4 separate regions of the Homo sapiens genome follow, and regions 1, 3 and 4 are each linked to region 2. Evidence: fine-mapped expression QTL. A gene starts in region 2. Each other region holds a variant in brackets. All regions are shown on one strand. Distances are between the middles of the regions. Region 1 overlaps CERS3 (ceramide synthase 3). Region 2 holds the start of LINS1 (lines homolog 1). Region 3 overlaps LINS1 (lines homolog 1). Region 4 has its middle 24 kb from the start of CERS3.

Region 1 (4,000 bases), 130 kb after region 2:
ATCTGCAGTTTCTTTCTTTTTTGCAGTCTGCTAAGATGTTTTCTTATGCTGGATGGACGCAGACCTGTAACACCCTGTTTTTCATCTTCTCCACCATATTTTTCATCAGCCGCCTCATTGTTTTTCCTTTCTGGTGAGTAGACCGGTGATGTGCCCTGCCTTTGGTCAGTGTGCAGAGGTGGCCTCAGTGCATGGTTACCCTCAGGGCATTGCCCTTTCCATACGTGGGTCTCCAGTTATTTGTGTCAAGTGCAGTTGGAGAAAAGAATGTGATGGAGCCATTTTTATAAATAATTAAAACAACACTCTGTGGTGTGGAAAAGGCTTATTACAACGGGAGATGGAAAATGTGTGACCTGACGGGCAAGCAGCAGCTCTTACTCTGTCTTGTTTCATGGATGTAGACCTTTCTTTGTGATTAACAGCTTTTCTAGTCACTCAATGAAAAGTCACTGTCCAATCACCAGTTCTCTAAAAGAGAGGTATGTTCTGTGTTACAATAATTATAGCCATTACTTGAATGCCAGACACTGGATTAGGTCCTTCCCATATCTTGGCTCTAGTCTACACAATAACTCATAAGGATGAGTATTATCACTTCCACTTCCCAGATAAGGAAAACTGATACTTGTTTATTTCATTCTCTATGACCACTGGTTCTAATTATGGTTTGAGTATCCTTTCGATATGATTGGCTCTCGATCAGTCTGTTGATTTTGTTTAGCCACAGACCAGCAATGAAAAGCATATATTACATCTCCCATGACAATCATTTCCTTGGGAAGCATAATGTTCCATGTGTTGATTGACAGAAACCAGAGTAACATGTGGGGAAGACTTAGATGGTTTGGAAGGAACAGCTTTTAACCAACCATAATTTGGGGCTAGTCTGGGAACTTGGGATCCTCCAAACAGAAGACTTAGTGCTGTTGAAGAGCCTAGATGCAGGGGAAATGGATGGAGACTCAAGTTCCAGGCCTCATTCTTAAGTGTATAGACAGCACCCTTGGCTGGCATCCAGGGAAATCCAGCCAGAGAGGTCAATGCCCTTTCCTGGAAGCCAGCTGCATTCTTTAGACCATGTGTATTCGGCATTTTCTGGAGAGGAACAACAGAGTGTAGTGGTTAAGTTGCTACATGTGAGAGTCCATCCTGGATTTAAATCCTGACTCCACACTTACGACCTTTGTGATCTTGAACAGGTTATACCACCTCTCTGTGCCTCAGTTTTCTCATATGTAAAATGGAAATAAGGGTTGGCATGAGGCTTAACTAGTTTATATAGTTTGGAACAATGTCTGGTACTCAGTAAAGAATCAGTAAATACTACCTACTATAATTAAACATATTAATGAGTATCTCAGAATTTGAAGTTCAACTAGAATCAAATCTAAGATAAATGTCTCAGATATTTTCCTTGGTTGATAAATCATTACCATCACTTTTACTTTGACTGAGCAAGTGTGTTTGTGAAATTTTAGTAATGGCTGGGCATGGTGGTGCATGCCTATAGTCCCAGCTACTCAGGAGCCTGAGGTTGGCGGGGGGGTCACTTAAGCCCAGGAGTTCTAGATCAGCCTGGGCAACATAGTGAGACCCTGTCTTTAAATATATCTATATCTATATCTATATCTATCTATCTATCTATCTATCTATCTATAT[A/CTA]TATATATATACACGTATATATATACACATATATATAGACGTATATATATATACATATATATGTGTGTATATATATATAGAGAGAGAGAGAGAGAGAGAGAGAATGATAGCAATTATTGATAGAATAATATTGACTTGCTGATGACAGTTGGGCATAGCTTTTCAGTGTGACTTTCATGACACTATCAATCCAGCATTTGCCCCTCAGTTCGCCATGTCCCAAAGGCACTACACGTTCCAATTGCCTGTTGCTGTATAACACAGCATCTAAAAGTCTAGTGGCTTAAGACAGCAGTGGGCAAACTTTTTCTTTAAAAGGCCAGAGAATATATATTTTAGGCTTTGAGGGCCACCTATGATCTTTTTTGCAAGTTTTTATTCATTTTATTTTGTTTTATAATCCTTTAAAAATGTACCAAGCCATACTTACTTAGCTCATGGGCTGTACGAAAACATACACCCAGGTTGCAGGCCGGATTTTACCCACAGGCCATAGTTTGCAGACCTCTGTCTTAAGACAACAACATTTATTAATTATTATTATTATTATTTCTCATGGTTCTAGGAGTCGATTGGCCTTGGCTAGATGATTTTCACTTAGGGTCTCTTGTGTGGTTACAGTTATATGGCGGCTGGGCAGTCACATAGTGTCTAGAGTCCTCAACACATGGCTGAAGTCATATATAGAAAATCAGGCTAGGTGCAGTGGCTCACGCCTATATCCCGGTACTTTGGGAGGCCGAGGCAGGTGGATCACCTGAAGTCAGGAGTTCGAGACCAACCTGCCCAACATGGTGAAACCCCATCTCTACTAAAAATACAAAAAAATTAGCCGGGTGTGGTGGCACATGCCTATAATCCCAGCCACTCGGGAGCCTGAGGCAGGAAAAGTGCTTGAACCTGGGAGACGGAGGTTGCAGTGAGCCGAGATTGTGCCACTGCACTCCAGCCTGGGCAACAGAGAAAGACTCCATCAAGAAAGAAAGAAAGAAAGAGAGAAAGAGAGAGGGAGAGAGGGAGAGAGGGAGAGAGGGAGGGAGGGAGGGAGGGAGGGAGGAAGGAAGGAAGGAAGGAAGGAAGGAAGGAAGGAAGGAAGGAAGGAAGGAAGGAAAGAAGGAAAGAAGATAAGAAAATCAGCTGGCTGATGCTGCTTGTGCTTATTGGCTGGGACTTCAGCTGGGGGCTGTCCGCTGGAATACCCACAGCCCCTCTAGTTGGCCTTGGCCTCCTCATCGCATGGCACCTGCATTTCAAGGGTGAGCATTTCAAGAGAGTGCTAGAGAGATGCTGCATCTTTTTTCATAAACAGCCTCAGTAGTCACATCACGTCATTTCCAACCTTGTATTTTTTATTGGAACCAGGTCACTAAATCTGACTCATATTCAAGGGAAGGAAAACTAGACTCCATTTCTTGATGGGAGCAGTTTCGAAGAATTTGCGGATGTTTTTAAAAAGCACACACCATGGAAGCTCTAGGTCCAGGGAACTCTCTGAGAAGTTTCTGCAATATTGCTGCCATGGTTGGCTTTTGATTTAGCAATGGAGAACATTCACCTCAGACTATCCCATGATGTCTCAAAATAAACAAGCAAGCTTACTTACCCATAAACAATTGAGCAACACAGTGGTGCTCAGTGATTGTCGGGGTAGTGCGCTATTTTCCCACACTGTTGTCTTTAAAAACCCTACATTTAAGAACTCATTCTCATGCCAGCATTTCTGGTTTTCAAGGAGAATTGAGTTACATGTGTTTGGCATTTTCTTGATCTTTATACTGAATTCACTTGCCCATTGGAGAGGGCAGCCAGTACTCCTATTTGCTGTCTTCAAGGAGTTGGGTTGCAAATAAACCAATATGAACAGACTTGACTGTAAAATAAAACGAAACAGGCCAGGCACGGTAGCTCACGCCTGTAATCCCAGCACTTTGGGAGGCCAAGGCAGGAGGATCACCTGAGGTCAGGAGTTCGAGACCAGCCTGGTCAACATGGTGAAACCCCATCTCTACTAAAAATACAAAAATTAGCCGGGTGTGATGGCGAGTGCCAGTAATCCCAGCTACTCGGGAGGCTGAGACAGGAGAATCACCTGAAACTGGGAAGTGGAGGTTGCAGTGAGCCAAGATTTTGCTATTGCACTCCAGCCTGGGTGACAAGAGTGAAACTCCATCTCAAAAAAAAAAAAAAAAGTTCAAAACAACAGCAAAAACTTTTCCTGGTAAAAATATTTCTGTATTGACGTTGACTGATTCTCATTGTTTGGAAAGTTGAGAAAAACCTCACCAAGCCATTGGAAGTTTGGCAGATCAATTTTCAATGGTCTCTGAAGGAAGTATGT
Region 2 (8,231 bases):
TACGTAGGGAGGGCATTCAGGGGATTATGATGTGGAAGGCTGAAAGTCAGGTAACAGATATGCCCATATAAATCATATCTGGCTTTAGACTTTTTAGGGATGGTGTGTATCTCTATGTCACCAAAGTTAAACGTGAACAAATTAAAGAGATACTGTATGTGTCATAGTATTAACTAATTGTAAATGACATCACTTTATGTGTAAAGAATGTAAGTACTGGCCACAGTATACTAAAGATGCATCATTGCATATCTTCAATTAAAATCAATTATTCTCCCTACGTGATTATAAATCTATATTTGGTGACGAAATAAATTGGATTTTTTTTAAGCCACATGATTGGCAATAGAATTAATACAAAGCTAACTGCCAGGTTAAAAAATGTAAGCTACCTAACTAGCCATGTTGGTAAATAAATACCCAAATTAAATATTCTAAATGCCTGGTATAATCTAGACCAAATACTCTCAGTCATTCTGATATTAGAAACATGACAGATGTTGACAATTTACACATATTCCCTAATCTTAGAAAAACTATTAAAAAATGAGATGATCCATGAAATACGATTTAAGCAATGAGAATGAACTGGCTGAGAGCCAGAGTAAAGACTTATCCTCTCTTACCTTATGTGCTGGACTAGCCACAGACTCCTTCCCTTTACCATCTCAGGTGAAACTACTCTTTAGAAATGAAAGCGTCCTAGAGTTACATGTAAAGCTGAAAAAATATTTAACTGAGAGGCTTGAATACAAAACACAGTACTTCATTTTGATCTTTAGAACATACTTCAAATATTTTAGCATTTTTTAAAAGTTCTGAAGTAATCATTAGGCCATCTCCCTGACAACTTCCATACTTACATAATAAAAATTAGCCTTTAAAGATTTCCGGGTAGCTTTTACTGAAATGATGTAGTCTAGTACTCCTGATTCCCTACATATACATACAAAAGCTGCCCTAAGTTTTCAACAGGGAACAGTCATTGGTAGATACTGATTCTAAATCCTATTCCCTAGAATCTCTTCTTTTGGCATGCAGTTCCATGTCTCAAGAATATGCATACCTCAGATCCCCTTAAAAGCTATGTCTTTATCTCTTTAGCTATGTCTTAAGAATTAACAGAATCAGTAAAGATACTAATTTCTTTTTGTGGAGGGCAGAAAGTCCAGTGGAACATAGGAAATCAAAAATATTAACTTCTGCTATTTTAAGCACTTCCTTGTAACAAAAATTCCCTAAACAATTTGGGATATTAAAATAACTCAGATTAACAAGTCACTTTATACTTTTGCTACTGGATGTTAAAAAAGTCATCCATTTGGCTAATTTTGGAATTAAACCTTGTATAATTTCCATGCTTATATCCCCCCTTTAGGAATTACACTAATGTCCTAAGTTTACTTTCAGAGCATTTTCAGAAGCAGCAACAAAATATGGCAGCAGAAATGTGATCACATGAATTAGATGCTTAAATTTCAATCCAGCAAACTCTACGTAAAAGTTTTAAAATGAGAAATCTTTTTTATAGAGTGCTAAAATTAAGACCCAGATATGTAAACACACCAAAAGGTTCCTTTGTTTTTAAATTCCTGAGTCAAACGATTAATAAGATATTGTGCAAATTTTTAAAAGTTCTCCTAGAAAATCTGAGGTGTAAGAAACATTGTATCTTTATAAGTTTCAAAGCCCATCCACATTTGTCACACACAAACACACAGAAAGCCCAAAGAGTTAATTATGCCTAAGTGCTTCAGGGTAATAATGTTGTCTTCATACCATTCACACTCTTAAGGTACACAGGTTGGCTTTCTAGTAGGAAATAAAATCAAACTATTTTCTGAAACTCATAAATCTCAGGCCAATAATTTACCTTTCTCTACCAAATCGTTGTCAGTTAGATAACTCAAAAGATTTTTCTGATGCAGGTAGAAGAAAGGTGATAGGAAAGAGTAAGGGGGAAAACAGTAAATTGTGGTTTAATTAAAAAGGAAAGTCATTCAGAATTAACAAGCAATTAACAAGGAATTGAGGAATTCCTATGAGAGTAAGGAAGGGAGGGTAGCTACAAAAAGGTCTCAAAGCCTCAGAGCAGAGTAAATGGCACAGTGTACCAAAAGATAATGAAAAACACAGAAACACACTGTACAGAAAGAAAGTGGGAAAATACTGTCCTGGGTAGAGAAGTTATAAAATGTTAAGTATCAGGCACGGGTAATGTTTTTGTTTTTCCTGGGAAACTGGGGGTGGGGGTGGGGGGGGTAGGAAAGGTTGCATTCCCAGGCAACCACCCTGAAAATAAACCACTGCTTAATGAGGTAGGGGCCAGGAATAAACAACGGGGGAGGGGAGGGCTGGCTCATTACCTTTACAGACGATGCTGGTCAGAGGCACTGTGCCTTCTGCTTCTCTGATAGGTGGGCAGACCTCTTCCTGCTTTCGCGTCTTCTTCAGCCAGCTCAAACCTAGAAAAACAGAAACCAGTGAGTGGTGTAGTGTCTCAGAGGTGGGGAGGGGGGAGCTCAGGAAAGGGGCTGGAGAGTGGCAAGGGCAGGCAAGAAAAAGCAGAGATTTTCCTCCCTCCTACCCTCCCAGCCAGCACTCTTCCCCTCGGGGGAAGTAAAGGACTTTACCTGTCTCCTCAGCTGCTGCTTCTCTTCCTCCTTTCAGCCTCCTCTACACTCACCAACTTCTCCATTGAAGAAATACCCCAGGCAGGGCCGGACCCTGGTGTTCCTGATCCTCCTCGGTGCCTCACGGCCCCAGCCCGGCGAACATCCGAACAGCCGAGAAGGCAGGAGGTGGCGATCCCGGCCGCCGGGCAGCCTTGGGGCAGAGGTGCAGGGAGGCAGGGAGGAAGTCCTGGCTCGGGTGGGGGGGCAGTCCCGGTCCAGGGCTCGGAGCAGGGGGCTGCCGCGCTCCGGGCCGGAGGCTTCCAGCTACGGAGGGACCCAGGAGGTCTCGGGACGGCGAGGTCCCAGGTCATACGGGGCCCGAAGTGCCAGCCGTGGGGTCTCCGGACAGGGGGCTTTCGGGATGCACTTTGCACTGGGCCACCCCCGCCCCCTCCCTTCAGCACTTTGGGGTCACTGGGATGGGACCAAGCCTTCAACAACCAATCAGCGCCCGCAGTGGAGCCTGAGCCTGGAGCCGTAAACCAGGTCCGGGATGGGTGGGGGTGGAGGGAGTAGGGACGACTTGGTTGGTTGGTTGCTTCCTTCTCTCCTCCTTACCCCCGGCAGCCCCCACCCTCTGCCTGCCGTAAAGTTGCCTTTGCATTCGCGACAGTTAAGGGAGGCGTGCCGAACGGGGCAGAGATTCGTCTCCGATTGGTCTCACTCACTTCCCCTTACAGCTTCCCCGTGGTGGCTTCCGAGGCTCCGCCCCTGGCGGAGGGACTCAAAGCCGTTGCTAAGAGACACTATTCGCCGAAGGCGGTCTCTGCGCATGCGGGAGGAGGTGCCAGCTTGTACTTTCTGTGAACTACGGTGGCCCAGAGCGGGCATTTGTGTTCCCTCAAATGGCGGTGTGAAGAGAGTTCGCCTGAGCCAGATCCCAGGCAGGTAACCGGGACCGGCCGCCGTGCTGGCAGCAGGGGAGGCACGAGTGCGGCCAAATGAGAGCCTGGTTCAGGGCTTAAGGTTGGGAGGGCGGCAGGCTCCAGGAAGCGAGTAGAGGGGTGCCTTGTTTCTCCGCCCCTGTTCAGCGCTTGTCAGACGCAAGTGCCCGGTCTTGGCGCGGCTGTCGGTCCTTGAGACCCCGTTAGCTTCCAGGCTGGCAATGCCTCGCCTGAAGTGGGAGAACGGACTCTCTTTGGGATAGCGATGACGATCCAAGGACCTTCCTGAAAGGATAGCAACGTTGGCGGGTTCCTGTGAATGAATGGAGAGGGGTCGTGGGGAAAACGCGAGATAGACTGATCAAGACACGTTTGTTAAGCACTTTATTCATTAGCAAGTGTTTACTGGCCACTGTTCTAGTCCCTGGGGAGACAACAGTGAACAAGATAGTGATTTCGGGGAAACAAACACAAAATTATCAGATAGGGATGGGTTATATGAGGAAAATCAAGCAGAATGGTGGAATCGATTTTGACCAGGACGTGATGGGCTGTATTAGATAGGTAGTGCTATGGTGTGAATATCTGTCCCCTTCAAAACTCATGTTGAAATTTAATCCCCAATGTGGCAGTACTGAGAGGTAGAGTCTTTAAGAGGTGGTTGGACCGTGAGGGTTCTGTCTTCACGAGTGGATTGATCTATTCATGGATTAATGGGTTATCACGGAGGTAGAACTGGTGGCTTTTTAAGGAGAGACTTGACAACTCGTGAGCCTGCTCAGCCCCCTGGCCACGTGATACTTTGCGGTGCTGTCTCGTGGTCCGTCAGTCTTAGACTTCCCAGCCTCCAAAACTAGACAATAAATTACTTTTCTTTATAAATTACCGAGTTTTAGGAATTATTTTATAAGCAACAGGAAACGGACTAAGACAGATAGGAAAGGTCTCTGAGGAAGTGACATTTGAGCAGGGATCTGAATGACAAAGAGCCAGCCATGCCAAGATCTAGGGAGAGAATTTTGCCAGCAGAGAGAATTAGAAATGCAAAGCCTCTGATGCTAGAATATGCTTTGCTGTTTACAGGAACTGCCAGAAAGAAGGCTAGGGTAGCTGAAGCAGAGTGGTAGGAAAATGACTGGTAATGAGACTGGGGAGTGGGGCATAGAGATGAGAAGACGCCGAGAGTCAGATCTTGAAGGGCCTTGGTAAGCCTTGTTTAGGAGTTTGGACTGTATCCTAAGGAAAGTGGATTGGTTTTTCAGAAGGAAGTGGGTGTAGGGTGGGCCTGGATACAACCACTTTGGAAGGGATCGGTTGCAGTTGTCCAGAGTAGAAGTGCAGTAGTGGCAGTGAAGATAGATTCAGCTTTTTAATTTTTGTCCCATTATACTTCCCAGCAATCATATTTCATAATTTCAACTTTCTAAATTTCCATTTCTTCTTGAAATTAGTAGCTGAATTATAATTAGAAACAACTTATTCAGGACTATTAAATGCTATCAATTTTTAGTAGCTTTCGGTCTTTCGATTCTACCATGATTTCTCCCTGTTTTTTTTTTTTTTTTTTTTGCTTAACAGCAGGACTCCAATGTAAACAAATAAAATAAAAGCGGTATTTTATTAGTATTGTTAAATGAAATGTATAGGAAGCCATTGTTTTAGATTAAACCCCTGCACTAGGCCCAACAGACCAGGCCAAATCAGAATGGAGTTGCTGGTGCTAGGTGTCACATAATCAAACAACTTAGAAATGGGCCAGTTGTCAAAAAATCCAGAAGATACACAGCAAGGAGTCAAGGAGGCCTGATTTACCTGAGCCAGCATGATAAAGAAGTCTCTCCTCCATTTGGTCTCTGTGAGGAAAGTTTAACTTTGAAATGACCAATCTGTCTTTTATTCTCTTTTTGCTTCTTCAACCGTTTTCAGCCCACCTCTGCTCAGCTAATCAGAACACCGTTTCTAAATTTTTAGTTGAGATGCTGCCAGATTCATAAATTGCTAATAAAAGCCATTTACATCTTTAAATTTGTTCAAATTTTGTTTGTTTTTGTTTTTGAGATGGAGTCTCCCTCTGTCGCCCAGGCTGGAGTACAGTGGTGCGAGCTTGGCTCACTGCAACCTCCGCCTCCCAGGTTCAAGCAGTTCTCCTGTCCCAGCCTCCTGAGTACCTGGGACTACAGACACACTCCACCACACCCAGCTAATTTTTGTATTTTTAGTGGAGATGGGGTTTTACCACGTTGGCCAGGCTGGTCTCGAACCTCTGACCTCAGGTGATCCACCCGCCTCGGCCTCCCAGAGTGCTGGGATTACAGGTGTGAGCCACTGCACCCAGCCTCAAATTTTGCTTTTTAACAGTTCAAATATAATGTACAAGTTCAGTTTTATAACATTTACTAATTATAGAGTCAAGAAGTTTTGAACTCCCAAAAAGAAGGAAAAAGAGGGAGAGAGAAATGAATAAATATGTAAATTGTTGTGGAGAACATATTCATTCTTATAGCAGACTCGGCACCCATGCAATTCATATGGTGTATTTGCTAAATGATAGTTAAGTAGAGAGATGGGGGCCTAAGAACTTGTTGGTGAAGAGCCTAGAAACAGAGTTGTCTCCTAATTCCTAGTTCTTTGTATTTCTGGCCATTTGTTTTTCATTAAAAATCCTGCCTTTGAGTTAAACAACCATTTTCAAATGATTGAAGTACATGATTATATCATAGCCAAGTAACATCATATTGTCAAAGTTTCACAGAATGTGCTACTAGGTAATTTTAAATTGCTTTATTGAATTGGTGCTATCAGATTTGCTAATTTTTATAACTTTTCAATGATGTAAAAGCAGTTTAGATTGCGGAATATTTATAACAAGTTAATATTGATTAGGTTTTAACAGATACACTTCATTTCCCATTAACTTAGTTAATAATATAAAACTCACAAAAATGGGAACATCTTACAACATATAAGTGAAATAATTTGGGATAAGTATTCATGAAGCTTGATTCATGAAACCCTGACTCAATCAGAATTGAGTTTATTTCTTGAGTAGAAAGAGACTTTGTCATTGGAAAAATGCCCCAGCACCACTGCAGCAATTCTGATTTAGCTGGTCTCTAGGGAGTCCAAGGCTCATGGGTTTTTCCTAATGTTCCAGTGATGTCAGTGTCAAGGTCAGATTCCAAGGTCAAGGACCACTGCCCAGGAGGCTGTGTCCTGGCCCATAAAGCACTTGGTGGTGGAGAGAATGAGCAGGTTATGCTCTAGTTGGCAGCAGGCAGTGTTCTGGGCCAGCAGGTTGTGTCTGGGGATCTTGGTGTAATAAAGAGGGCCACCATAAAGACAGATGCAGCACAGTTTGGAGCCCATCATTTGCCTTGTTAGCCCAACTTAGTTCAGCTGTACCTGGCAGAAAAGGCGATGGGGCTGGGTAGAGAAATTGTATTTCAGACCTTGGTCATCACAGCAAAAAGAACGCCGAAAGAAAGGAAGCTAACTGGAGGCTTTTGAGTTCCTTATAGTTCTTGCCCTGGTAATTTAAGGGATTTTGGTCTTCTATGGTATTCTACCACAGCCATTTTAAGATGGTGCTTCAGTGTGTGTTGCTTCTGTCAAGTACGTTGTCAGATGTGTCATACGGTAAAGACTGAATGAGCTCAGAACTTAATCCCTGCTATGGATACTACTGTTTATAATTCTTTGATACTACATTTTTATTATAATTTAAAATTCACAACTTAAAATATTACATGGTGTTTTTAAAGTTTTTTGAGATCAAAACGGTACTAAAATATACTTTGGGACTGATTTTAGGATTGTTACATATACACTACTAAATTAATCTTCAGCCAGGAATGTATTCCACAAATATAAGTACCTACTGTGTATCAAATGCTGTGCTAGGAGCTAGGGAAGAACCAAGCAGACAACTCTAAATCATAAAAATCATTGCACAAATCGTTAAAGTATAATTGTGACACATTCTGTAAGACAGGGCACCAGAGCTGGAAGACAGTATCACCGGAGGACCTACCCCTGCCAAAGAAAGTCATATTTAAGCCTAAAACAAAAGGGAAAGTGGGTGGAAGGAGAAGCATTGTATCAAGGCCCAGAGGCTGGAAGGAACCTTTCAAGGTTAATAAATAAAGACATATTGACATCTTCCTACTTGAGTTATACAGGTGTTTTCACATATAAGCCATTTAATTTTTGCAAATCTTTGAGTATGCTACTTGGCTGAGGTAGGTAGATAATCTCGTTTTATCAATTGAAAAATCAGATCTTGTCTGTGTACAGAATTTAGGAGTTCAGTAAAATCTAGACAGTATCACATCTATAGACAGTTCCTCAACGCTACCCTGCCACTGGTGGCGGGTTTGTGGGGGCAGATGGAAAAGGGACAAGGCATAGACTGGAAAAGGGGAAGACTAAGGAAAACCTTTCAGTGAAATATTTCATTCTGAAGTACCACTTAAAACATACAGTTATAATTTAGCAACTAAGTATAGAAAAGTATTCATATTGATACACTGGATAATTTCCATTTATTTTAAAAATGCTTAGCATTAGCATATAAAAACCTAAGGAGCTGAGATTCCTCATCAATAAATCAAGTAGATTGTGCAGTGGTTCTCAAAATGTAGTCCCTGGTTCAATTCTTGGGCCCTCCCAGACC
Region 3 (5,798 bases), 30 kb after region 2:
CCATAAAATGAATTTTAACCGTGGTTCTTACCCATTAATCTGTGTAACCTCATTTGTTAATGTTAGAGGTAAACATTCCAAATCTGTTTTTTCATCTTAAAAAGTGATATTTATAAAAAGTGAATTGTAAAATTGTTTGAAGAAGACTGTTTTTCCTGTTTATAATTCCTATTTTTATAATTGCAGAAATTCTAAAGCAGTTCCTGACTCATTTCGACACCATTTTTGAAGTGTTTTACAATTCCTTATTCTCTCAGCATTTTGAAAACTGCCGGGATACTTCTAAAATAGTAAACATCCTGATGTGTTTCCTGGATTTGCTTGAGCTTCTCATCGCCTCCAGAATCCACCTGAAGTTACATTTCACTTGCCAGAGGATTTTATTTTTGAAACCATCTTGCATGCTAGAAGTTATTACCTGGCCTATTCAGGCTTTTGTTAAAAGGAAGGTCATCATATTCCTCAAAAAGTGCCTTCTCTGTAAAGTGGGTGAAGACCTCTGTCGTGGATCTGTGCCTGCCTTAATGCCGCCAGACCATCATGTAGCGGTGGACATGCTGGCTTTAGCTAATGCTGTTTTGCAAGCTGTGAATTCGGGGTTGTTGAAGACACTGTCTGTTTATGAAAAACATTCCTTTTTTGGAGGTGATGAAGTTCAACCTGAATGTGAACTTATCACTAGTCCAGATCATGTGATCCTTAGAGCAGCAAGCTTAGTTATAATGAAATCCTTAGAAATCAAGTTTCAAAATTATTCTTCAGCAAGTGAAGTGAAAGGTAATTCTCCAAACTCCTTTTGTATGCAGTGTGTAATTATTTACTTAAGTACAGTAATTCATAATTATCAAATCTCAGGACTAGTTTAAATTCCAGTAATTTAAGCTGTATGTTATCCTATTTGTAACTTATTACATTTTCAAAAAAAAAAAAAAGAACTGGATTTACCTTTAAGAAACATGTCAGCTTTTTGTGCCTACAATGAATTTGTAAAGCATAAGGAATGATTTAGGTTTAAAAAAGTTGCTGTTGAGTCATCTCAAAGTAAGTGATGGAAATCAATTCATATTCAAGTATTTACAGCATTTTATTTATATTAATCCTTTTTTTTTTTTTAATCTAAACTGCAGGTGCGTGACCATGGCCCACTGCAGCCCTGACCCCCCTTCGGCCCATGCTATTCCTCCTGTCCCAACCTGGGAGGTCCTAGCCTGGGAGATCAAGGCTACAGTGAGCCGCGACCCATCGCACACCTGCACTCCAGTCCTGGTGCAACAGATGGAGATCCTTTCAGGGAGAGAGAGAGAGAGAGAGGAGAAGACAGAGAGATTAAAGAAAAATATGTTCACTCCCACTTATGTGTTTATTGTTATTATTGTTTGTTGTTATTTCTTTGTTATTGTTGTGTTTACTGTTTATTTATTTTGAGGCAGGGTCTTGCTCTGTCTCCCAGGCTCACTGCAGCCTCAACGTTTTGAGCTGAAGTGATCCTCTCGTCTCTGTTTCCCCACCCCATTTGTATTAATCCTTCATACAATTAGTGTTTC[C/T]ACTAATGTAGATTATTGAAAATTAGATATTGAATTAAAGCTAATATATGAGAAGTTATATTGACAAAGAAATTGTTACATATATAATTTCCAGAATAGTAACTCAGGAGTTCAAAGTCTTCCATTTTACTTGAGAAAAATGAATAGTAAATGTCTCTAAACAGGCAGCATACAGATTCAGTGAAAAGTTTGAATTGTGAGCAATGACATCACTGAATTGCTTTGGATATAATTTAGCTTTTAATAACTACACATTAGTTATAATTCTGTGCAGTTTTAATTTATAACACTAGATGGCACCTGTTATATAATTCAGTTTTAAATTGTAGTTCAAACTACCTAAAACGTTTTTTATTTTTGTGCTTAATAGTAGTACTTCTATGCTTTAAACAAACAAAAAATATGTTTTTCTGTTATTTTGAAGACAAAATTATTTTTGCTTGGTTGCATTCTTGGACAGACAGCTCTGGCATCCGATGAAGTGATCTTAGTTGTCTGCTCATTTATTTATCTGCTTTTAGCAAGAAATCACATAACTTTTATTTCTAAGAGACAGTTGTTAGGCAGTTGTTGCAAATAGATGATGTAGCTGTACATTTTAAATGTATGCTCTGGAATGAGTCACTTTTTTTCCCTGAGCCTCAGTGTCCTCATTTGCCAAATAAAGATGCTTCCTAACTGATTCCTGATGACTTTTTGAAAGTGAATTAGGATAATTGCATCTTAAGGTACTTTAGACACTATGAATTTATATATAGGCAAGATATTCATTCATTCATAAACTATTGCCTACACTTTGAAATTTTCATTTTTTGAAGTTGACTTACAGAGGTTCATGTCTGAGTTACTGACCTTCTTAAAGCCTCATCTTCAGCCCTCTCTGCAATTACACAATCCGTGCAAATGGCTGTCTCGGGTTTTCATAGAACAAGACGATGACATGCTGGAGGCTGCCAAGGCATCACTGGGCATCTACTTAACACTGACCAGGTTAGTGTATTTTAAAGTAATTATTGAACGGCCTACAAGTCAGGAAAGCAGAAAACATTTCTGAGAATGTGCTGGGCGTGTTGCTTACTTTCATCATTTGGGGGAAAACATCCTGTTGCAGTTCCTTTCTTTAACCCTGACTTACATGAAAAGGAGATTGCATTTGTATCGCTAGGAAAACCTGGCTGGCTGGGCAGTTCTCAGGTAGTATAACTAGATTGGTATCTGAAAACATGGCTTCTGATTTGGTCTCCAGTAAGTCAGTACACTTCTCTGAATCTTAATTGTTGTTCATTTAAGACCTCTTTTCACCCCTAAGACTTACTTTTTTGTATTAAGCTTCAGTAAGATGATCTTTGCCTTTGTAAAGGTGAATACAAACTTAGAAATAATCAAAGAAGCTGTTCTGAATTTTCGTTTCAGTCGAATTTGGGCTGATACCTTCTTGAGGCAAATGTCTGAAATTGGTTAAGTTATGTTACTGATGATTTATACTGATTGTCTCTGCTTTATTAAAATAGCTGTACTTGGGTTAATATCTTCTTGTGGCAAATATCTATAATTGGTTATGAAGCTAATAACCGATGACCTTTTCCACTGTTTCTGCTTCTGCTTTATTAAAACCCTCACATATTTGCTTTATTTCCATTTCTTTCTTGGCCTGGGAGAAAGGGATTTCTTGCTAATGATCTGTGGTGCAGCGTTGTGCCGCCAGTACTTACTTGTATTATGACACTGCTGGCAATGGCTGCTCTTAGACTCTTGAGTGTTTGGGGCCAATTTTCAAAAGGTCCTAATCAAGAACACAAAATTCCTGCATGTGATTTGAATTAGGTTCAAAATGGTCAAATACAAGTTCAGTCTGAAAATGCACACGCCTGTAAGAGTGTATCTTAATTGTACTCAAAGTTAGCTCCTTACTCCTCAGGAAGTGGAAACCCCTGAATGAAACTGACTTTGTGTGTGAATTTCTCACTTTCTGAATCCAGTTCAGTGTGTCCAGAGAGGCATGTGCTTACAACATAGATAGTTTTTTTCAGATGTAGTTGTATTTGTTAAGATTTTTTTGGTTGTAAATGATAGAAACCAACTCTAATTTGAGCAAAAGCCAGCATTTATTGGCTCATAACTGGGAATTCTAAAGGGTCAAGTTGGAGTCAGGTATAACTATATGTACAGGGACTATAATCAATCATGTCATCAATCACTTCTCAATTTTTCTCTGTCTCACAGTTTTGAATTCATTCTCAAGGCATGGCCACCGGCAGTTCAAGGCGTACCTCAGCCTTACAGTTATAATCTTCCATAGCTCCAGCAAAAGTCCCAGGGGAGACCTGATTAACCCACTTGGGTCACAGAGCCTTGTCAGAACCAGTCATTGTGGCCAGGAGCATGGAGTGCTCTGATTGGTCAATCTGGGTCACATGCCCACCCTTGTTGAGGGTAAGGAAGGAGGTTTAGGAATTATCTTACCACATGGAATTGGTTACCTATAAGAATGAGGAGTTCTGATGTCGAGAGAAAGAACAACAGGTAACTTTTATTGGGCAGACAAAAACTAGAACTGCCAAAGTCAGTGGATTTTGCTTTACTGAGTCAGATTTCTTTAGAGCTTATGGGGAAGGGAATGGGTTTTGAAATTTTTTCTTTTAAGAAGTGATGCATAGATTTAAAAGTAATCTAATAGGTTAATTTATGGTATGTGAATTATATCTGGTAAAACTGTTTATTTTTGTAAGGTCATTAATCTGCATTCTCCATTATCTTCATTTTCAGAGGATGTGAAGCCACTGAAAGCTTGACTCAGGGAAAAGAAATGTGGGACCATCACACACATGAAAATGGCTATAATCCTCACTGTATTTTCTTGTTCTTCTTGAAAAATATAGGATTTGATTCCACAGTTCTTCTTGACTTTTTGATTTCATCAGAAACCTGTTTTCTTGAATATTTTGTTAGATATTTAAAATTACTGCAAAAGGACTGGGATAATTTTTTCACCATTTGCAATAACTTTGATGCAACTGAATCTAAATATGACATAAGTATTTGTGGCTGTGTCCCCTCACTTGTCCAAGACCAAAGCTCCAACCAAACAATACCCCATCGTTTGACTGCTCCTCATAGTCACAGAGATGTGTGTGCTCGGCACTCCTGGGCTTCCGATGCTCCCTCTGAACCACTGAAAGCTGTGATGTCCAAGGGGGCTCACACCATGTGTGCTTCTAGTCTGTCTTCCCCCCGGGCCTCTCAAAGTCTGGTAGATTACGACAGCTCTGACGATTCTGACGTGGAATCCACAGAGCAGTGTTTAGCTAACAGTAAACAGACATCTTTACACCAGCAAGCAACTAAGGAGATTCAGGATGCAGCTGGGACAAGCAGGGATAAAAAAGAATTTAGCCTTGAGCCTCCATCAAGGCCTCTGGTTCTGAAAGAATTTGATACTGCCTTCTCCTTTGATTGTGAAGTAGCCCCAAATGATGTCGTCTCTGAAGTGGGAATATTTTACAGAATAGTAAAATGCTTCCAGGAACTACAAGATGCCATCTGCCGTTTGCAAAAGAAAAATCTTTTCCCATATAATCCAACTGCACTTTTGAAGTTGTTAAAATACATAGAGGTGATAAGTAATAAAACTATGAACACTTTGTAAAACATTGACATTTTATTTTCCAGGTATTGTTTTTCCTTAATATAAATTATGTCTCAATGAGGTAATAGTATAAAATCATCACCATAAAAGGGTTTTCTTTTTTTTTTTTTTTTTTGAGACAGAATCTCATTCTGTCGCTCAGGCCGGAGTGCAGTGGCGTGACTCGACTCACTGCAACCTCCACCTCCTGGGTTCAAGCAATTCTCCTGCCTCAGTCTCCCGAGTAGCTGGAATTACAGGTGCCCGCCACCACGCCCAGCTAATTTTTGTATTTTTAGTAGAGACGGGGGTTTCACCATGTTGCCAGGCTGGTCTCAAACTCCTGACCTCAAGTGATCCGCCTGTCCGCCCTCCCGAAGTGCTGGGATTACAGGCATGAGCCACTGTGCCCGGCTGGGTTTTCTAGACAAGTTCTTACTTTTTGCCTTATTGGAAGCAACCTAGTGACTGAAAAAGAGACATCAAGTGACAAGTCACTCATTATAGCTATATACCACTGGAGATTTATGGCAGTTCTAAGTGACACAAAATCGGGGGTGGTGATTGCGTTCCTCAGCTAGGGCTGCCGTAACAACTTGCCACGTGTGCCGCAGCTTCAGACACCTGGA
Region 4 (8,231 bases), 49 kb after region 2:
CACCCGTTCCTCATCGGCGTCCCGAAGGAAGTCATTCGCCCGTTCCTCATCTGCGTCCTGAAGGAATCATCCACCCGTTCCTCATCGGCGTCCCGAAGGAAGTCATCCGCCCGTTCCTCATCTGCGTCTGGAAGGAAGTCATCCACCCGTCCCTCATCTGCGTCCTGAAGGAATCATCCGCCCGTCCCTCATCTGCGTCTGGAAGGAAGTCATCCACCCGTCCCTCATCTGCGTCTGGAAGGAAGTCATCCGCCCGTCCCTCATCTGCGTCCGGAAGGAAGTCATCCACCCGTCCCTCATCTGCGTCCGGAAGGAGGTCATCCGCCCGTTCCTCATCTGCGTCTGGAAGGAATCATCCACCCGTCCCTCATCTGCGTCCGAAGGAAGTCATCCGCCCGTCCCTCATCTGCGTCCGGAAGGAGGTCATCCGCCCGTTCCTCATCTGCGTCCTGAAGGAGGTCATCCGCCCGTTCCTCATCTGCGTCTGGAAGGAAATCATCCGCCCGTTCCTCATCTGCGTCCGAAGGAAGTCATCCACCCGTCCCTCATCTGCGTCCGGAAGGAAGTCATCCGCCCGTCCCTCATCTGCGTCCTGAAGGAAGTCATCCGCCCGTTCCTCATCTGCGTCTGGAAGGAAGTCATCCGCCCGTCCCTCATCTGCGTCCTGAAGGAATCATCCACCCGTCCCTCATCTGCGTCCGGAAGGAATCATCCACCCCTCCCTCATCTGCGTCCGGAAGGAGGTCATCCGCCCGTTCCTCATCTGCGTCCAGAAGGAATCATCCACCCGTCCCTCATCTGCGTCCAGAAGGAAGTCATCCACCCGTCCCTCATCTGCGTCCGGAAGGAAGTCATCCACCCGTCCCTCATCTGCGTCCTGAAGGAAGTCATCCGCCCGTTCCTCATCTGCGTCTGGAAGGAAGTCATCCGCCCGTCCCTCATCTGCGTCCGGAAGGAATCATCCGCCCGTCCCTCATCTGCGTCTGGAACGAAGTCATCCGCCCGTCCCTCATCTGCGTCCTGAAGGAATCATCCACCCCTCCCTCATCTGCGTCTGGAAGGAAGTCATCCGCCCGTCCCTCATCTGCGTCCTGAAGGAATCATCCACCCGTTCCTCATCGGCGTCCCGAAGGAAGTCATCCGCCCGTCCCTCATCTGCGTCTGGAAGGAAGTCATCCGCCCGTCCCTCATCGGCATCCTGAAGGAATCATCCACCCGTTCCTCATCGGCGTCCCGAAGGAAGTCATCCGCCCGTCCCTCATCTGCGTCTGGAAGGAAGTCATCCGCCCGTCCCTCATCTGCGTCCGGAAGGAAGTCATCCGCCCGTCCCTCATCTGCGTCCTGAAGGAAGTCATCCGCCCGTCCCTCATCTGCGTCTGGAAGGAATCATCCACCCGTCCCTCATCTGCGTCTGGAAGGAAGTCATCCACCCGTCCCTCATCTGCGTCCTGAAGGAATCATCCACCCGTCCCTCATCTGCGTCTGGAAGGAAGTCATCCGCCCGTCCCTCATCTGCGTCTGGAAGGAAGTCATCCGCCCGTCCCTCATCTGCGTCCGGAAGGAGGTCATCCGCCCGTCCCTCATCTGCGTCCTGAAGGAATCATCCACCCGTTCCTCATCGGCGTCCCGAAGGAAGTCATCCGCCCGTCCCTCATCTGCGTCTGGAAGGAAGTCATCCGCCCGTCCCTCATCTGCGTCCTGAAGGAATCATCCGCCCGTCCCTCATCTGCGTCCGGAAGGAGGTCATCCGCCCGTTCCTCATCTGCGTCTGGAAGGAATCATCCACCCGTCCCTCATCTGCGTCCGGAAGGAAGTCATCTGCCCGTCCCTCATCTGCGTCTGGAAGGAATCATCCACCCGTCCCTCATCTGCGTCCTGAAGGAATCATCCACCCGTCCCTCATCTGCGTCCGGAAGGAGGTCATCCGCCCGTTCCTCATCTGCGTCCGGAAGGAATCATCCACCCGTCCCTCATCTGCGTCCTGAAGGAATCATCCACCCATCCCTCATCTGCGTCTGGAAGGAAGTCATCCGCCCGTCCCTCATCTGCGTCCTGAAGGAAGTCATCCGCCCGTTCCTCATCTGCGTCTGGAAGGAAGTCATCCGCCCGTCCCTCATCTGCGTCCTGAAGGAATCATCCACCCGTTCCTCATCTGCGTCCTGAAGGAAGTCATCCACCCGTCCCTCATCTGCGTCTGGAAGGAATCATCCACCCGTCCCTCATCTGCGTCCTGAAGGAATCATCCACCCGTCCCTCATCTGCGTCTGGAAGGAAGTCATCCGCCCGTCCCTCATCTGCGTCCTGAAGGAATCATCCACCCGTCCCTCATCTGCGTCCTGAAGGAATCATCCACCCGTTCCTCATCGGCGTCCCGAAGGAAGTCATCCGCCCGTCCCTCATCTGCGTCTGGAAGGAATCATCCGCCCGTTCCTCATCTGCGTCCGGAAGGAATCATCCGCCCGTCCCTCATCTGCGTCCCGAAGGAAGTCATCCGCCCGTCCCTCATCTGCGTCCCGAAGGAAGTCATCCGCCCGTCCCTCATCTGCGTCCGGAAGGAAGTCATCCGCCCGTCCCTCATCTGCGTCCGGAAGGAAGTCATCCACCCGTCCCTCATCTGCGTCCGGAAGGAAGTCATCCACCCGTCCCTCATCTGCGTCCGGAAGGAAGTCATCCGCCCGTCCCTCATCTGCGTCCGGAAGGAATCATCCACCCGTCCCTCATCTGCGTCCTGAAGGAATCATCCACCCGTTTCTCATCAGGCTGTGCTGGACGGGGCATGACTAGCGCTTCCTCTGCAGGCTCATGGAGTATGTTCCGGGCTGTGAGCTCTTCAGCTACCTGCGCAACCGGGGGCTCTTCTACTCTGCAGAGATCATCTGTGCCATCCTGCACTCTAAGGAGATCATCTACAGGGACTTGAAGCCGGAGAACATCCTGCTGGATAGGGACGGACACATCAAGCTCACGGACTTTGGGTTCGCCAAGAAGCTGGTAGACAGGACTTGGACCCTCTGCGGAATACCCGAGTACCTGGCCCCCGAAGTCATTCAGAGCGAGGGTCACGGAAGGGCTGTGGACTGGTGGGCCCTCAGCATCCTGATATTCGAGATGCTCTCGGGATTTCCTCCATTTGTGTGTGTGTGTGTGTGTGTGTGTGTGTGTGTGTGTGTGTGTGACAACATGTTTGGCATTTATCAGAAAATTCTTGCAGACAAGATAGATTTCCCCAGACATTTGGATTTCCATGTGAAAGATCTCATTAAGAAACTGCTCGTGGTTGACAGAACAAGGTGGTTAGGAAATATGAAGAACGGGGCGAATGATGTGAAACGCCATCGGTGGTTCCGCTCTGTGGACTGGGAAGCTGTTCCTCAGAGAAAACTGAAGCCTCCCATCGTGCCCAAGATAGCCCGCGAAGGCGACACCTCCAACTTCGGAACTTACCCCGAGAATGACTGGGACACAGCCGCGACCGTGCCGCAGAAGGGTTTAGAAATCTTCAAGAATTTCTGAGGACAGGAGCTCACATCTGGAAGAAGCAGGAAGGCTGGAATCTGCCTGCAACAAAGAGCTGCTCCTGAGCAGACCAGTAGCAATGTCTTCTTCACGTGATAAGGACATTTCCACTTTTCTGTCTTTGTGCCTGTATGTATAGAAACAGATCAGAGCACAGTTGAAATTAATGTAACTGGCATTATTTAAGCAACTGGAATTCCACACTGTAGGAAGGTTTTGAAAATTGTTTGCTTGTAGATTTTATCTTATCCTTTAGTGTTGTGTTCCTACTGTGATGTCTTGGTTTTTCTCATAGACTTAAGTTTATAAGTTTGAACTGGACTTGTTCAATTATAACCACAAATTGTGTGTGTGTGTGTGTGTGTGTG[C/TGTGTGC]ATGCGCGCGCCTGTGTGTATATATAGAAGTCATTATGGCAGATCCACAGAAATTGTGCAATGATGTAAATGTTCATACTTCACAGAGCCTATAATTTTTATTTTTCAATTTGTTTTTTCAAAAATCTCTTCTCTTGGGGACAACATCTGAAGGGTCTGTTGCATGGATTTAAAAAAATCATCTCACATGCATTTTTTAGTTTGGGTGAAGAAAACATCATGGGGAGGTCCATCTTCAGTATCTTTAGTGCTTCCTACCTGGTAACTTGAGACTTTAAAAGAAGAAACAAAGAGAAGAAGATATGGGAGTGAATTTATTCCAAGAATCTACAATGACATTGAAGTTGTTGGAGGAATATACTGTATTTAAAAAACCTGTGTCACATTCAAAAATTTCATCTAAGCTGGGCGCAGTGGCTTGTTCCTGTAGTCCCAGCACTTCAGGAGGCTGAGGTGGGTGGATTGCTTGAGCCCAGGAGTTGGAGACCAGTCTGGGAAACATGGTGAGATGTCATCTCTCTACAAAATACAAAAAAATTAGCCGGGCATGGTGGCGCTTGCCTATAGTCTCAGCTACTCGGGAGGCTGAAATGAGAGGATCACTTGAGCCCGGGGAGGTCCAGGCCGCAGTGATCCGAGATCACACCACTGCACTCCAGCCTGGGTGACAGAGTGAGACCCTGTCTAAATTAAAAAAAAAAAAAAGGCAATGGCTTTGTGCTTTTGAAGGTGGAATGAAAGGTGGAATGAAGACACATCCACCTTAAGGCTTTAAAAGACCATGAAGCTGGGTGCAGTGGCTCACTCCTGTAATCCTAGGATTTGGGGAAGCCAAGGCAGGAGGATTGCTTGAGCCTAGGAGTTTGAGACCAGCCTGGGCAGCATAGCAAGACCCCATCTCTATAAAAGGAAAAAAATGTTAAAACACAGTGAAACTGCAGAAACAGAACATAGCCACCCTTTTTCATTAATGACCTTTTCTTCACGTGGTGGTCAACTCAGCAGGTGAGAATAATTAGTAGGTTCAGTAGAATAAAGTCTTTACAATTAATAACTTAGTGGAAAATGATGTTCAGATGATGAAATGTGGAAATGTTTTAGACAGCTGTATTTTCAGCCTGTGTGTCTCAGTCACCATCCTGTTGGGATTAACAGTTGAGGGCCATCATTTTCTAAACATTTCACATGCAGTTTCCCATAATTTTTACCGTGAATGTGAAAAGGTGAAACTGGTGCTGACTTCAGCGGCAGGTATACTAAAATTAGAATGACACAGAGGAGATTAGCATGGCCCCCTGTGCAAGGAAGATCCAGATTCATGCCGCATTCCATATTTTTTTTTAAAAAAGGTTACACTGTGCACCGAGATGTGCAGCTAGAAGGAAGAGCATGAAGTCTCGTGTTTGCTGACTATAAAAATAAATCATAGTAATAATATTGTTGAAAATTCTGCTTTAAAAATTATTAATAAAACCATAAATGAAACACTATTCTTGAGCACACTTTAAAAAGTACATAGACCCATAAGTCCATGTACTAAAAAATGCCTATTTTTAGGTTGCCTGTTTTGTAATCCAGGATTTCATACTGAGATGAAAATTAGCATCAGGAAAAGCCTGAAATGCCTTGCCTTAATTGTGAACAGATACTGGGGAACCTGCCCCGATATTCACGTAGGTTCTTTTCTGTTTTCCTTAAGCATCGGCCAGCTTGAGAAATAAAGGGACAGAGTACAAAAGAGAGAAATTTTAAAGCTGAGCGTCCGGGGGAGACATCACATGTCGGTAGGTTCCGTGATGCCCCACAAGCCACAAAAACCAGCAAGTTTTTATTAGGGATTTTCAAAAGGGGAGGGAGTGTGCGAATAGGTGTGGGTCACAGACATCAAGTACTTCAGAAGGTAATAGAATATCACAAGGCAAGTGGAGGCAGGGTGAGATCACAGGACCACAGGACCGAGGCGAAATTAAAATTGCTAATGAAGTTTCGGGCACCATTGTCATTGATAACATCTTATCAGGAGACAGGGTTTTTGAGATCAACCGGTCTGACCAAAATTTATTAGGCGGGAATTTCCTCTTCCTAATAAGCCTGGGAGCGCTATGGGAGACTGAGGTCTATTTCACCCCTGCAGTCTTGACCATAAGAGATGACCACGCCCAGGGGGGCCAGTTCAGAGACCCACCCCCAGGCGCACATTCTCTTTCTCAGGGATGTTCCTTGCTGAGAAAAATAATTCAGCGATATTTCTCCCATTTGCTTTTGAAAGAAGAGAAATATGGCTCTGTTCCGCCTGGCTCACCGGCAGTCAGAGTTTAAGGCTATCTCTCTTATTCCCTGAACAATTGCTGTTATCCTGTTCTTTTTTCAAGGTACCCAGATTTCATACTGCTCAAACACACATGCTGTACAATTTGTGCAGTTAATGCAATTATTACAGGGTCCTGAGGTGACATACATCTTCGTCAGCTGACAGGATTAAGAGATTAAAGACAGGCATAGGAAATCACAAGAGTATTGATTGGGGAAGTGATAAGTGTCCATGAAATCTTTACAATTTATGTTTAGAGATTGCAGTAAAGACAGGCATAAGAAATTACAAAAGTATTAATTTGGGGAACTAATAAACGTCCATGAAATCTTCACAATCCACGTTCTTCTGCCATGGCTTCAGCCGGTCCCTCCGTTTGGGGTCCCTGACTTCCCGCAACAAACAGATATGCATGAAAATGAAATATGCAAAGCACATTGATGACCTTGTTCTTTACGGACATTGTAATCAGCCTCTAGCCATACAGAACAAATGAGAAATTAGAAGCACTTCCAAGAACGTGTGATGGTGTGAAACCCACTTTTGACCATCATGCACATTTCAACATTTGAAGTGAGACAGGCTACCTGGTAACTGCCCCATGGCGGGGTCATAGTTTAAATGGCCCAATGTCCTGTAGAGGTTAATTTAATCAAAATGAGCTATAAACATAGAACAATCACTATGTATAATTTTAAAATAGTTTACCTGGCCCGTCATGGTGGCTCACGCCTGTGATCCCAGCACTTTGGGAGGCCGAGGTGGGCAGATCACCCACGGTTGGGAGTTCGAGACCAGCCTGGCCCGCATGGCGAAACCCCCATCTCTACTAAAACTACAAAAATTAGGCATGCTGGTGGGTGCCTGTGGCCCCAGCTGCTCAGGAGGCTGAGGCAGGAGAATCGCTTGGATTCGGGAGGCGGAGGCTGCAATGAGCCAGGATTGTGCCTCTGCACTCTAGCCTGGGTGACAGGGCAAGACTCCATCTCAAAAAATAAAAATAAAAATAGTTTATCTGGGTGGGCATTCCAAAATTTCCGCATAGATGATCACGTGAAACAATCACTGTGCTAAATGTGGAGGAAAATTCATCACGATAATCACAAAATTTGTATCAGAAAAAAATTACAAATGTACTTTGTTTCATGTAATTTTATGAGTTGGAAGTATTTTCTTAAATTGGAACACTATAAGATAATATCTTTAGGAAATGGATATGCCACAATAGGAAGTATAGTGGGGCAAGTCTTGTTTTTCTCAAGGGAAAAGCCACCAGCCTGCTTTCATAGGCATTGATAAAACCAGGAAGAAAATAAAGTCACAACCAAATAGTATACACTGTCTCTACTGAATTCTTCTAATTCCTTCCCAACAGAAGTCTAAATCCTGCTTAGCCTAAACATATCTATAGCCAGCGATGGGCAAATTATATTTGCTGTCAGCATGATAGAATAAGAATCAGAAACCCCCCAGCAGTGGGGTAAGATCGTGCACTTCATCCCCTCAAAATGCTGTCAACCCCATTCCCTCTCCATGCCCTCAAACAACTGCACAGTCACTTGTTAGTGAATTTCTCGTTCAGCGTTTTGTTTTTTTCTCTCCATACTTAAAGACCAAATCATTTGTTTGCTCTGAAGAAAAAGAAAAAACAAAACAAAACAAAAAACCACCCACCAAATCATTTGAAATCACTACCCGTTAAAAAAAATCACCAGTGGAACTAAACAGTTGAGTGGTTTGGGATGTGTTCGCCATTTCTGTGTTTGACCTACATGGCCTCTAGTTCTTTGGACCACTGTAACTGTGAAACCATGGCTTAATACTGTTAAAGACCCCAAGGCTCAACTCTGTAGCCAGGGTGTACCTCAGGCTGCACAAATATCACACCAGAATGTCACAATCATTCATTGCTCCAGCTACTGAGTGAACAGGGTGCAAGACAGCACTGGCTTGGGTTGTATTTTTGCAGCCAGTTAACTTTGCATCAGGTCTACACAGTCCTTGCAGCCTTTGATTTCTCCAGTTGTAGAGATTTG

What was found. PIP is the estimated chance that this variant, and not a neighbour inherited with it, causes the effect. A credible set is the group of variants that fine-mapping cannot tell apart.
Region 1: its variant is the best candidate, but not a certain one, in a credible set for the expression of LINS1 in prefrontal cortex (CommonMind, PIP 0.85).
Region 3: its variant is the best candidate, but not a certain one, in a credible set for the expression of LINS1 in whole blood (INTERVAL, PIP 0.86).
Region 4: its variant is the best candidate, but not a certain one, in a credible set for the expression of LINS1 in CD4 T cells (CEDAR, PIP 0.73).

Annotation. Positions count from the first base shown.
Region 1 is chr15:100,465,511-100,469,510 of GRCh38, reverse strand. It overlaps CERS3 (ceramide synthase 3), which reads left to right. Exons shown (of 12, transcript NM_001378789.1): 10 at 27-133. Among named protein-coding and RNA genes, the nearest start is that of CERS3, 61 kb to the left of the region's middle. The variant A/CTA (reference allele first, on the strand shown) is at 1,663.
Region 2 is chr15:100,597,449-100,605,679 of GRCh38, reverse strand. It overlaps LINS1 (lines homolog 1), which reads left to right and starts at 3,496. Exons shown (of 7, transcript NM_001040616.3): 1 at 3,496-3,559. ASB7 (ankyrin repeat and SOCS box containing 7) reads right to left here and starts at 3,091. Exons shown (of 6, transcript NM_198243.3): 1 at 2,634-3,091; 2 at 2,367-2,465. RefSeq lists silencers at 2,309-2,358, 2,809-3,068 and an enhancer at 3,239-3,578.
Region 3 is chr15:100,568,630-100,574,427 of GRCh38, reverse strand. It overlaps LINS1 (lines homolog 1), which reads left to right. Exons shown (of 7, transcript NM_001040616.3): 5 at 187-777; 6 at 2,363-2,534; 7 at 4,311-5,798. The coding sequence ends at 5,190. Among named protein-coding and RNA genes, the nearest start is that of LINS1, 31 kb to the left of the region's middle. The variant C/T (reference allele first, on the strand shown) is at 1,545.
Region 4 is chr15:100,548,811-100,557,041 of GRCh38, reverse strand. It overlaps the pseudogene PRKXP1 and the pseudogene RNU6-322P. Among named protein-coding and RNA genes, the nearest start is that of CERS3, 24 kb to the right of the region's middle. The variant C/TGTGTGC (reference allele first, on the strand shown) is at 3,885.